Homo sapiens: one gene and its partners. The protein of the gene in region 2 interacts with the protein of the main gene of each other region in a pairwise test. Each region holds a gene or a part of one and is shown on either strand. Other genes may lie near its edges.

Region 1 (3,648 bases), on a different chromosome or scaffold from region 2:
GGGCACTGAGGCCTGGGGAGGAGGAGAGAAGGCCCAGCTTGCGGGACAGCCAAGAGCAGAAGGCAGGCCTTGTGCAGGAAGAAATGTGAATGGGACTAATTAAGACTGGCATTTATTGAGCACTTACCATGTGCAGAGCCCGTGCTAAGCACTTTATGTATGTTTACTCCATTCTGTGACCCAACATGAGGCCCAAAGACAGTAAGTGATTGGCCAGGGTCACACCACCAGTGAGGAGCGGAGCCAAGGCTGATCCCAGTATTGTCTGATGCCAGAGCCCACATCCTGACTTTGGGGGTAGAGAAGATCATACAGTAGAGTTCATTTAATTCACCCAGTGCTTGGATCTTGACTCTGCAGTAAAGTGTTATATATGGAATCTTGAATACCTCCTCTGACAGAGAGCTCACTACCTCACAAGGTGACCTATTGCACCTTGGCTCAAAACTAAGAATGGCTGGACTCCCACATTTCCTGACCCTGGCACTTGGGATGGTCAGTTTCATTCAGATAGTGAATTATGAATCTTTCCAAAAGCAGGAAACATGAGACAAATCTGAGTGGTACTGGAGGACACCCTGAAACACACAAGGTTTGCCTCCAGGCTGGGCCGCTCCTGGCCATGGAGATGCCTGCAAAACCTTCAAGGAAAGGATAGGAGATGTGGTTCCTAGGGCAGTGGGAGGCGATCAGGCCCCACCCCAGGAGTTCTTTGGTCCTCGCGTGTCCTCCCTGTGTCCTCTCAGTTCTCACTGCTCCTCAGTGTGTCCTCACAGCCACCCTCAAGATCCCTTGGACAGAGGTCACCCAAGAAGACTGGTGTGTGCACCAGGGCCACCCCAGCCATGCCCTCCACTTGCCCTTCTTAGGGCCTTTGCCCATCACCTCCATCTACCTAACAGCATCCCTCATCCTCCACCCACTGACATCTACTCAAATACCACCTCCTCCATAAAGCCTTCCTGGATTTCTCTTTCCAACCAAGCAGCTTCTCTCCCAGCTTGAACCTCTCCTGGTCTGTCTCTCTCCTTGCACTGTCTTGGGTGGGGTTCAGTGCCCTGCAAACCATAAGCTCCACACCCATGGGGCCTGAACTGAGTGTGGTGGTTCCCTGGTTCTGCTTCCGCTGGAGCACAGTCTGTGGGGAGAGTGTGGTACAATTTCTGCAGACTTGAGGTAACATAGGGCTGTCACCTCTCAAGAGAAATGTGGGAAAATTAGTTGTTGGCAGGACGCAGTGGCTCACACCTGTAATACCAGCGCTTTGGGAGGCCAAGGCGGGTGGATCACTTGAGGTCAGGAGGCCAGCCCAGCCAACGTGGTGAAAACCTATCTCTACCAAAAATATAAAAAAATTAGCCGGGTGTGGTGGCACATGCTTGTAATCCCAGCTACCTGGGAGGCTGAGGCAGGAGAATTGCTTGAACCCGGGAGGCAGAGGTTGCAGTGAGCCGAGATCACGCCATTGCATTCCAGCCTGGGCGACAGAGCAAGACTCCTTTTCAAAAAAAAGGAAGAAAAGAAAATTCGTTGTTAGGGTGGTGGGACCCTTGATTGTTTCCTACTGTTTTAAAAATGTGTGTTATTGTTCTATTTTTCTGTGCAGCTAATCCAAAAGCGCACACACAAATGCCCACAGCAGCCCTTCCTCTGCCAGCCTTCTCATTTGCCTCTTAGCCACTGTCTCTGCTTTCCTTCTTGTTAGTTCTTCGCACACTCATGGGACACAAAGCCAACATCTGCAGCCTGGATTTCCACCCGTACGGCGAGTTTGTAGCCTCTGGTTCCCAGGACACAAACATCAAGGTGAGAGGCCGGTCCGTGCCCCGTGTCTCCTGCTGGGCCTGTGGCAGGACCAGCCCGGCCCGGCCCTCAGTGCTGGATGCCTGCTGAGGGGACCTCTTCCCTTTCTGCAGCCACATCCACACCATCCTAGGGAAAGCGGGTGGCAGGCATCTATCTGCCAGATGCTTCTGCTCAGAATGCCAGCTTTAGTGAGCAGTTTCTGTCCTTGTCTCCGTGGGGAGTAACGACCTAGAGAAGGCTGGGCCCCACCGTCTGCTCACGACTGCACACCTTCCTCCAGTCGTGGCTCTGACCTCTCCTGACTCTGCCCCTCTGCTTCTCTCTCCCCCACAGCTCTGGGACATCAGGAGGAAAGGCTGTGTCTTCCGATACAGGGTAAGGATGCGCTCTGTCGGTGACTCCATGAGCACCTTGCGGGCATTGAGTGTGGTGTGGTGCCCAGACCCCAGCAGGGGGTGGAGGGGACGGCTGTCCCACATGGGTGATAACATAAAACATAGACCTGGAGCTGAGCAGGAGCGCCATGGGCGGCCCACCTGGATCCCCTGGCTCTGCATGAATCCCCTAGAGCCACGTTCATCAAACTGCTCCAAGCAGAACCAGGCGGGTAACCAGTGTTGTTAGATGGAAGGGGTCCCATAGGAGTGAGGAGGCAGGGAGAGGTCTGTTGGGCCCAGGATCCCAGGGTGAGCTCATGCCGTGTCCTCCCTCAGGGGCACAGCCAGGCCGTGCGGTGTCTCCGGTTCAGCCCCGATGGGAAGTGGTTGGCGTCGGCCGCAGATGACCACACCGTGAAGGTAGCTCCCGGCCTGACCTGGGCCCAGGGGCTGGGGGCTGGGGTCTGCTGATCACAGCAGGCTGAGTCCTCACCTCCCTCCTGATCGGGCTCACATGTCCCAAGCCTATCCCGAGTGGAAGGTAGCTTGTGGATAAAGAGCTTGGCCTGGATTAGAGGGAGGGTGGGCAGCCAAGATGCCTGGTCACCCTGACCTCCTCCCTGCCCTGCCTCCAGCTCTGGGATCTCACTGCCGGCAAGATGATGTCTGAGTTCCCTGGTCACACGGGGCCTGTCAACGTGGTCGAGTTTCACCCCAACGAGTACCTCCTGGCCTCCGGCAGCTCTGACAGGTGAGGAGGAGGAGCGAGGCGAGTTGCTTGTGACTGCTGTCCTTCACCGCCTTGTCCTCTGTGCGTGTCTCTACTGCCGGTCTGTCGCTGTCTGGGGTGTCATACGTCTGATGATCCTGTGTGGACTGAATTGGATTTCAGCCGAGCCAGGACTGGACCCTGGTCCATCTCCCCTGGCTCTGGTTCCCTGGCCCCAGTGTCCCAGGTCTGTGGCTTCATGGGCAGGTTGGGACCCAAGGCATCTAGTGGGACCCCATAGGGCAGGGAGGCTCGTGGCTGTTGGGGCCAACCCTGGGGCCAGGGCCATCGGGCCGAGCCTCCCCCTTGCAAAGTCAGGGCCAGCTCTGCCCCAGATGTTGCTCCTGGTGGCCCTGCCCTGGGGGAGAGGTTTCTAGAGAAAAGCTGGCTTCCCAGGGACATGTGGAGGCCAGGATGAGGGATAGGCTTCGCAGCACAGCTTGGCTGCCTTTGCAGGACAATCCGCTTCTGGGACCTGGAGAAGTTCCAGGTGGTGAGCTGCATCGAAGGGGAGCCTGGGCCCGTCAGGTACGCAGGCTGTGGGGTGGGCGGCCCAGCGCTCCTCCCGGCAGTGGGGCGTGGCTGTGGGTGGGCCTTTCCCATCTCCGCTGCTGCGCCCTCCCTGCCCTGGGCCCTCTGGATTCCTCGGGGTGGGGACCAGGCTGGGTGCCACAGGACCCACGGCCATCTCTCGCC
Region 2 (3,648 bases):
CTGTCTCCCAGGTTCAAGTGATTCTCGTGCCTCAGCCTCCCAAGTAGCTGGGATTACAGGTGTGTGCCACCACATCCAACTAATTTCTGTTTTTTTAGTAGAGATGGGGTTTCGCCACGTTGGCCAGGCTGGTCTCAAACTCCTGACCTCAGGTAATCCACCCATTTTGCCTCCCAAAGTGCTGGGATTACAGGTGTGAGCCACTGCACCTGGCCTTAAATAATTGTTTTTAATAACATGTTTTAAGTAATTTTTTTAAAAAGCCCAGAAAATAATTCATTTTCTGGGCTTTTATGTTTAGAAATGTTTTCCACATTTATTAACATAAAACACAATGTACCTCTTCAACAGTAAAAATAAGGAACTGATTATTGAAGATCTCATTAAATGACAGAAGCTAATAGAAAAAAAGAAACCAAATCAATTTCTGAAATGCCTATAGAGAGGAAGAGAAATAAAACGAGGCAATCCCAAATCATAAGAAGGAAAATGAGAAACAAAGAATATAATTTTTGCCTTTACAGTTAAAACAATGAAAGGACACCTAAAAAAATAGACACCTTTAACTTTTTCTTTTCCTTGTAGTTCCTGGCTTCTTCTGCTGCGACACCTGCTGCTTCATTGAGGTACTTGTTACCAACTTTGCTTTCAAACCATTTTAGGTCCACAAAAACTTCACTGAAGTGCTCCCGATCAAACTGTACAGAAATATTTAAATTTATTTTTAAATAATTTAAGTATATCTAGAAGAATACAAATCAAACTTAAAACAGTGACTACTACTGGGGTATAGGAAATTGGAGAATGTTACTCTTTTATATATATGGGAGACCTCATGTGTTACTCTAAAAATACAAATAGAAAGCAAATAAAAATAAAATTAATTTAGGTAAAAGTGTTTATATTGAATAAGCAATTGGAATAGAATTATAAAACCCCTTTCTTCTGGTATTACATAATTGGTGACTGATCATTTACAGCTACTCTGCGACAGGAAACCAAAAATTTCTAGTTACTTACATCTGATAGTTTCACAAGGTATTTCTCAAATCGAGGTAAGTTGAGGTGCCCACTTTCATTAATATAACCTAAAAGAAACAAAAATTTAAATCTGTACTAAAAGCTGACATTTTTTCTAAACAATTCTACAAAACTCTTTCTACAAAATGTTGAATGTTCATGTTCTACAGTACTAATCAAGAAAAAACAGTGTTGGACTATATCCAAACTGGCCCTAGTTTCTGTGAATTTTATGCTACTATAATATGCAACATGTAAGCACCAAAGCCAAATATAAGAAATTCCAGGTTCCACATAATAATCCAACATTTGGTAACAATTAATTAAATTAAATATGGTCTATAATCTATCTAGATCATTTAATATGATATGTTAACTTAAGGACTGATGTTCTGCTACCCTGTGGTCTGTTTTATTTGGCATCACTATGTTTGTCAATTTTCTGTTTTCATTGAAAAATCACTGCTTCATAATAAACACTGTGATGCATATCCATTCGAAAAAAATTGAATTTCTATGCTTAAATATGAAAAAAGTAAAACCAATAAAGTATGCTGGCTTTCTTAAGGAATTAAAGGCAAAGATTAGACCGGGTGTGGTGGCTCATGCCTGTAATCCCAGCACTTTGGGAAGCCAGATCACTTGAGGCCGAAGTTTGAGACCAGCCTGGTCAATATGGTAAAACCCCATCTCCACTAAAAATATAGAACTTAGCTGGGCATGGTGACACATGCCTGTAATCCCAGCTACTCAGGAGGCAGAGGCATGGGCATAGCTTGAATCCAGAAGGCAAACGTTGCACTGTCGCCACTGCACTCCAGCCTGGGCAACAGAGCAAGACCCCGTCTCAAAAAATAAATAAATAATAAAAAAAAGGCAAAGATTAGTTAGATATCAATAATTGAGGTTCGTTAACTCTGTTCACTTTCTTTCCTTGTGAATCACTGAAAATGACAACCTCAGAGGTTAGCACCTTAGACCAAAATAAATCCTCAATGTTTTTCTGCTTTAGCGTGCATGCAATAATCTACTAAACTAAGTCACATTTTTAGGGTAAGGTGGCACTAAATTAAAGTATCCTCGAGAGATTATTAAATTCTTCTTACCCCCAAGTTCTGGCAGGATGGTAACATATGTTCCATAAAGAAGAGGCAGTGCATCATGATTAATATGTAAATGAGGTAGATGAGGGATAAAATCATTACCAACAAGAAACCCCATCAAAATCCAATCATCTATTATCCTTTCAATATCATATTTAAATGTGATCTTTTCCTACAGTAAAATAGAGAACAAAGTCAAATCCAGTGAAAATTTCTGCAATGGAAATCCTTGGTCCATGGCTTTATTAATACTTACTTTTAATACTGAAAACTCATAGTCAATATACTCTCTCATTAAAGACAAGTGTAGAAGGTGAAATGTAGTTTCTTCTGGAGCACATACCCTGGAATTAGTCAGATGATCAAGATACAGTGAATTTTATTTTTAAGGTCCCAGCTTAAAAATGTAACAAAGCTTAAATCAAAAGTATCATCAGAAGATAGTAAGGTCTTGTAATTAAGGCATACAATTTATATGAAGGTTGCAGGGTAACAAAGATAAAAATACAATTGCAATAATAGATAATACATGTTAAAGTTCAAAACAATTGGTTTACATTATGTGTTCTGTGGAAGGATTCTCAGAATTAAGAAGTCCTAAATAACATATAGTAGAAGTAAGAAACTACTGAGATCTGGCCCATTTAAGGCTGGTCTTTTCAACAAATAATGCAAGGAAGATTGGATATCCACATGCAAAAGAATGAAGTTGGGCCCTTACCTTACACTACACACTAAAATTAACTCAAAATGAATCAAAGATCTAACCATAAAAGTTAAAACTTGAAAACTCCTAAAAAAAGAAGAATAAATGAGTTGGATTATAACAAAATTAAAAACGTTTGTGCATCAAAGGACACTATCAACATAGTGAAAAGGCAACCTACGGAATGAGATAAAGTATTTACAAACATGTATCTGTTAAAGAATTACTATCCAGGCGTAATTTCTTTCTTCCAACATATATGCTATATAATTTACCGTTGTGTTTTTTTGCCACCAAATCGAACTTCTTCTCTTAAGAGAGAAAAATGTGCCTCATGACTTGTTAATCCAAGCATAATCTGTTGAAAAATGATTAAGAAATGTTTTTATTCTCCCATTTTTAATAATATTAGGTTCACAAAAGCAATTAAAAAACAATTCTATACAAGGAAGAATAAGAAACAATTAGCACATTAAATATACAAATAACAAAATATGATCTATTTGTAGGTAATGAATGAGATAAAGTGTACTTTTCTAAGAAAAATATGTTCACCTTAGCTCACATGCTTTTCATAACCATTACCCTATCCCCTGTCCCCTCTCCTCTTCCTATCCCTCCAAATCCCAAACATCTTCTCTTGGTTTTCACATATTTCTACTTGCCGTGGGGGAACTGGTTAGAAATTAGAGGCAGCAGCTTTTCTATGACCAAAGAATGCAGGACTCTTTTGGAGACCAGGATAGCCCCAGTATATGAAAACTCAGGAAAAAAAAAAATGGAAAAGAGCACTTCCAGTTAATTTTCTCACATAGTATC
Region 3 (3,648 bases), on a different chromosome or scaffold from region 2:
GACAGTCAGGCCTGAAGGACAGGGGCCCTTCCTGAGTTCTGGCTGTAACTCCCATGTTTGAGCAGCCCTGGCTTCTCCTGCAGGGATTGGGTTGGCCTGAGCGCCTGCCTGCTCCCCGTCCAGCGCTGACCTGGGCTGCCTCCCACTTCCTTCACTGCCAGGATGGGAACCTGCCCAGTGGAGAGGCCATGGTGAGGCAGTTTTTGCAGGGCCAGAACTTCTTTCTGCAGGAGTTTGGGAAGATGTGCTCTGAGGTAGGCTGAGAGCTGCTACACCAGGCTGTGGGCGAGTGGGGCTGGCGCTCGACTTGGAGTGCTGAGGGGCTGAGGCTGGGGTGAGTCCGCCTGGAGCTCTGGTTCCTGCACTCCAGGATCCTCTTTCTCCACAGTTCTGGCTGCCGGACACCTTTGGCTACTCAGCACAGCTCCCCCAGATCATGCACGGCTGTGGCATCAGGCGCTTTCTCACCCAGAAATTGAGCTGGAATTTGGTGAACTCCTTCCCAGTAAGCAGGCCCCCGGGGGGTCAGGGTCAGAGTGGGCCTCAGTCCCGCCTGGCCCATTTGCCTCTCCCCCTTATTGTGGGGTCCTAGACAGACCACCAAACCCTCACTCTGCCTCTGCCAGGGTCACATAGCAGGCAGGGGCAGGACCAAGTCTGGAAGGCCTGGCTCTGCCTCAGCCCTGACTCTGGCCTCTCTGCCCTGCTTCTGTTTCCCTGCTGGTAGCACCATACATTTTTCTGGGAGGGCCTGGATGGCTCCCGTGTACTGGTCCACTTCCCACCTGGCGACTCCTATGGGATGCAGGGCAGCGTGGAGGAGGTGAGGGGTCACCTAGGGTGGTGGGGTAGGGGCAGGCTGGAGAGGGCTGGCTTGTTCCAGGCTGATCCATGCTGGCCTGCCCTCACCTGTCTAGGTGCTGAAGACCGTGGCCAACAACCGGGACAAGGGGCGGGCCAACCACAGTGCCTTCCTCTTTGGCTTTGGGGATGGGGGTGGTGGCCCCACCCAGACCATGCTGGACCGCCTGAAGCGCCTGAGCAATACGGATGGGCTGCCCAGGTCAGGCCAGGCCTTGGCTCTCCTTTAGCCCCACCCTGGGCCCTTGCCATGAGCCCTGCCTTCCCTCAGACATTGGGCCCAACCCCTCCTCTGGACCTTGTCCTGTCCCAATCCTAGACCACGGGTTCCTCCAAACTTCCACCCTGGGGGTGGGTGGGGGAGAAGCTGAAGCTGGTAAGGGCTCCAGCCCATCAGAGAGAGAGGCTCTCCTAGGGCGTCCAGGGCTGGCCATCTGTGAACGGGGAGCTTTCTGGAGTGGCTCCTCTCTGTAGGAGCTGGATCCTTTGCTTTGGTGTGGAAGAAGGGTGAGCCATGTGGTCTCCAAGGCTGGGAGACCTAGGCTTGTGGTCTCCTCAGGGTGCAGCTATCTTCTCCAAGACAGCTCTTCTCAGCACTGGAGAGTGACTCAGAGCAGCTGTGCACGTGGGTTGGGGAGCTCTTCTTGGAGCTGCACAATGGCACATACACCACCCATGCCCAGGTCAGGGGGAGGTTGCAGGGCTGTGCAGGGAGGGTGTGCCCTTGATCTGCAGAGGGTCAGAGAAGGCAGCAGGGGACAGAGCCCAGGCCAGATCTAGGGGAAGAGAAGTTTGGAGGAGAGAAGTTCAAGACCTGGGTTGGTCAAGAAAGCTTGAAGGAGGCAGAAACCCCTGAAGAAAGAAGGGTTTGGGCTGCGGGGAGAAGAGGGAAGGCATTTAAGGCAGGTCACCCGCCAGAGGCCTTCTCCACGAGGCCCTTGGTGAGTCCTCAGGGATTCTGAGCAAGGGAGGGCTTTGGAAGGTGTCCTGGGACAGCTAAGCAGGCTCCAGACTAATCTTCCCATCCTGGGCTCAGATCAAGAAGGGGAACCGGGAATGTGAGCGGATCCTGCACGACGTGGAGCTGCTCAGTAGCCTGGCCCTGGCCCGCAGTGCCCAGTTCCTATACCCAGCAGCCCAGCTGCAGCACCTCTGGAGGTCAGCCCAGTTCTGTCCCTGCCATCCACCTGACTGCTCACTGCAGTTACCTCTGTGCCTGCCCCTCCCAGCCTTCCCATCCCTGCCCTTGGCCCCTGCAGGCTCCTTCTTCTGAACCAGTTCCATGATGTGGTGACTGGAAGCTGCATCCAGATGGTGGCAGAGGAAGCCATGTGCCATTATGAAGGTTAGGCTCACAATAGTCCTGCCTGCTCTCTCCAACCCCAGGGCTGAGCCCAGAGTGTCCCCTGTGGGATACCCATGGGCACATTCCAGACCTGTTGCCCACCTATGACCAGCCAGTCTTTCCTCAGACATCCGTTCCCATGGCAATACACTGCTCAGCGCTGCAGCCGCAGCCCTGTGTGCTGGGGAGCCAGGTCCTGAGGGCCTCCTCATCGTCAACACACTGCCCTGGAAGCGGATCGAAGTGATGGCCCTGCCCAAACCGGGCGGGGCCCACAGCCTAGGTACGAGCTGAGGGGAAGGGTTGCTACTGCAGCAGGAAGGATGGAGGCCAGACAGATCAGGCCTGGGATACCCCGAGGGATCTGGGTGCCCCTGACTGGAGAGTAGTAGCACATCTTCCACCAACCCATCCCCACCTGCGCAAGCTTCCTGAAAGGTCAGGAAGGCTGCACTGATGCCCAGGCCTCACCCCCAGCCCTGGTGACAGTGCCCAGCATGGGCTATGCTCCTGTTCCTCCCCCCACCTCACTGCAGCCCCTGCTGCCCCAGCAGCCTGTGTTCGTAGTGCAAGAGGTGAGTCCTGCATGCCCTGGGGGGCAGGAACTGTGCTGGGATACTTTCTTACAACTGAGGGTCCTGAGCTCCCCTGTCTGGAGCAAGTGGTGAGGCGGGGCTGGGGTTGGGGTGGGAAGACTTTTGGTGTGGGAAGCCCCTACAGACTCAGCCTCAAGGCCTCCTCCCACAAAGACTGATGGCTCCGTGACTCTGGACAATGGCATCATCCGAGTGAAGCTGGACCCAACTGGTCGCCTGACGTCCTTGGTCCTGGTGGCCTCTGGCAGGTGCCAAATCCTCATTGCCCTTTCCCAGTGCCTGGCAAGTAGACCCCAGGCCATTTCCTCTCTCCCCTTGCCACAACACTGCCCACAGCAGCCCACCAGTGGCTCTGGGCTGGAACCCACACATGGAGCAGGGCAGGCTGGGCAGTAGTCCCCTGTCCACTGGGTCTACTCACTCCACCCTACCCCACCAAGAGCAGCTGGAGACAGCGAGGTCAGTTGGTTGTACAGCACCAATCCCATGTCCTTCCAGGGAGGCCATTGCTGAGGGCGCCGTGGGGAACCAGTTTGTGCTATTTGATGATGTCCCCTTGTACTGGGATGCATGGGACGTCATGGACTACCACCTGGAGACACGGTATAGGCTGGGCAGCATGTGGGGATGGTGGAGGTGGTGGGAACACAGGCTGCTCTGGATCAGTATGTCCACCCCTGTCCCATAGGAAGCCTGTGCTGGGCCAGGCAGGGACCCTGGCAGTGGGCACCGAGGGCGGCCTGCGGGGCAGCGCCTGGTTCTTGCTACAGATCAGCCCCAACAGTCGGCTTAGCCAGGAGGTTGTGCTGGACGTTGGCTGCCCCTATGTCCGCTTCCACACCGAGG

The links.
Region 1: the proteins of XRN1 (region 2) and KATNB1 interact in a two-hybrid assay, tested with the Homo sapiens proteins (one large-scale study listed by BioGRID).
Region 3: the proteins of XRN1 (region 2) and MAN2C1 interact in a two-hybrid assay, tested with the Homo sapiens proteins (one large-scale study listed by BioGRID).

Annotation. Positions count from the first base shown.
Region 1 is NC_000016.10:57,749,122-57,752,769, forward strand, and holds part of KATNB1 (katanin p80 WD40 repeat-containing subunit B1), read left to right. Parts: intron 1-1,705; coding exon 1,706-1,806; intron 1,807-2,139; coding exon 2,140-2,181; intron 2,182-2,519; coding exon 2,520-2,603; intron 2,604-2,818; coding exon 2,819-2,934; intron 2,935-3,408; coding exon 3,409-3,480; intron 3,481-3,648.
Region 2 is NC_000003.12:142,420,456-142,424,103, forward strand, and holds part of XRN1 (5'-3' exoribonuclease 1), read right to left. Parts: intron 3,188-3,648; coding exon 3,105-3,187; intron 2,468-3,104; coding exon 2,380-2,467; intron 2,296-2,379; coding exon 2,127-2,295; intron 1,089-2,126; coding exon 1,021-1,088; intron 699-1,020; coding exon 561-698; intron 1-560. UniProt on the Homo sapiens protein: Major 5'-3' exoribonuclease involved in mRNA decay. Required for the 5'-3'-processing of the G4 tetraplex-containing DNA and RNA substrates. The kinetic of hydrolysis is faster for G4 RNA tetraplex than for G4 DNA tetraplex and monomeric RNA tetraplex.
Region 3 is NC_000015.10:75,358,461-75,362,108, reverse strand, and holds part of MAN2C1 (alpha-mannosidase 2C1), read left to right. Parts: intron 1-161; coding exon 162-254; intron 255-388; coding exon 389-505; intron 506-727; coding exon 728-823; intron 824-917; coding exon 918-1,063; intron 1,064-1,420; coding exon 1,421-1,544; intron 1,545-1,897; coding exon 1,898-2,019; intron 2,020-2,120; coding exon 2,121-2,206; intron 2,207-2,333; coding exon 2,334-2,489; intron 2,490-2,670; coding exon of another isoform or gene 2,671-2,683; coding exon 2,684-2,781; intron 2,782-2,917; coding exon of another isoform or gene 2,918-2,955; coding exon 2,956-3,050; intron 3,051-3,300; coding exon 3,301-3,405; intron 3,406-3,490; coding exon 3,491-3,647; intron 3,648-3,648. UniProt on the Homo sapiens protein: Cleaves alpha 1,2-, alpha 1,3-, and alpha 1,6-linked mannose residues on cytoplasmic free oligosaccharides generated by N-glycoprotein degradation pathways.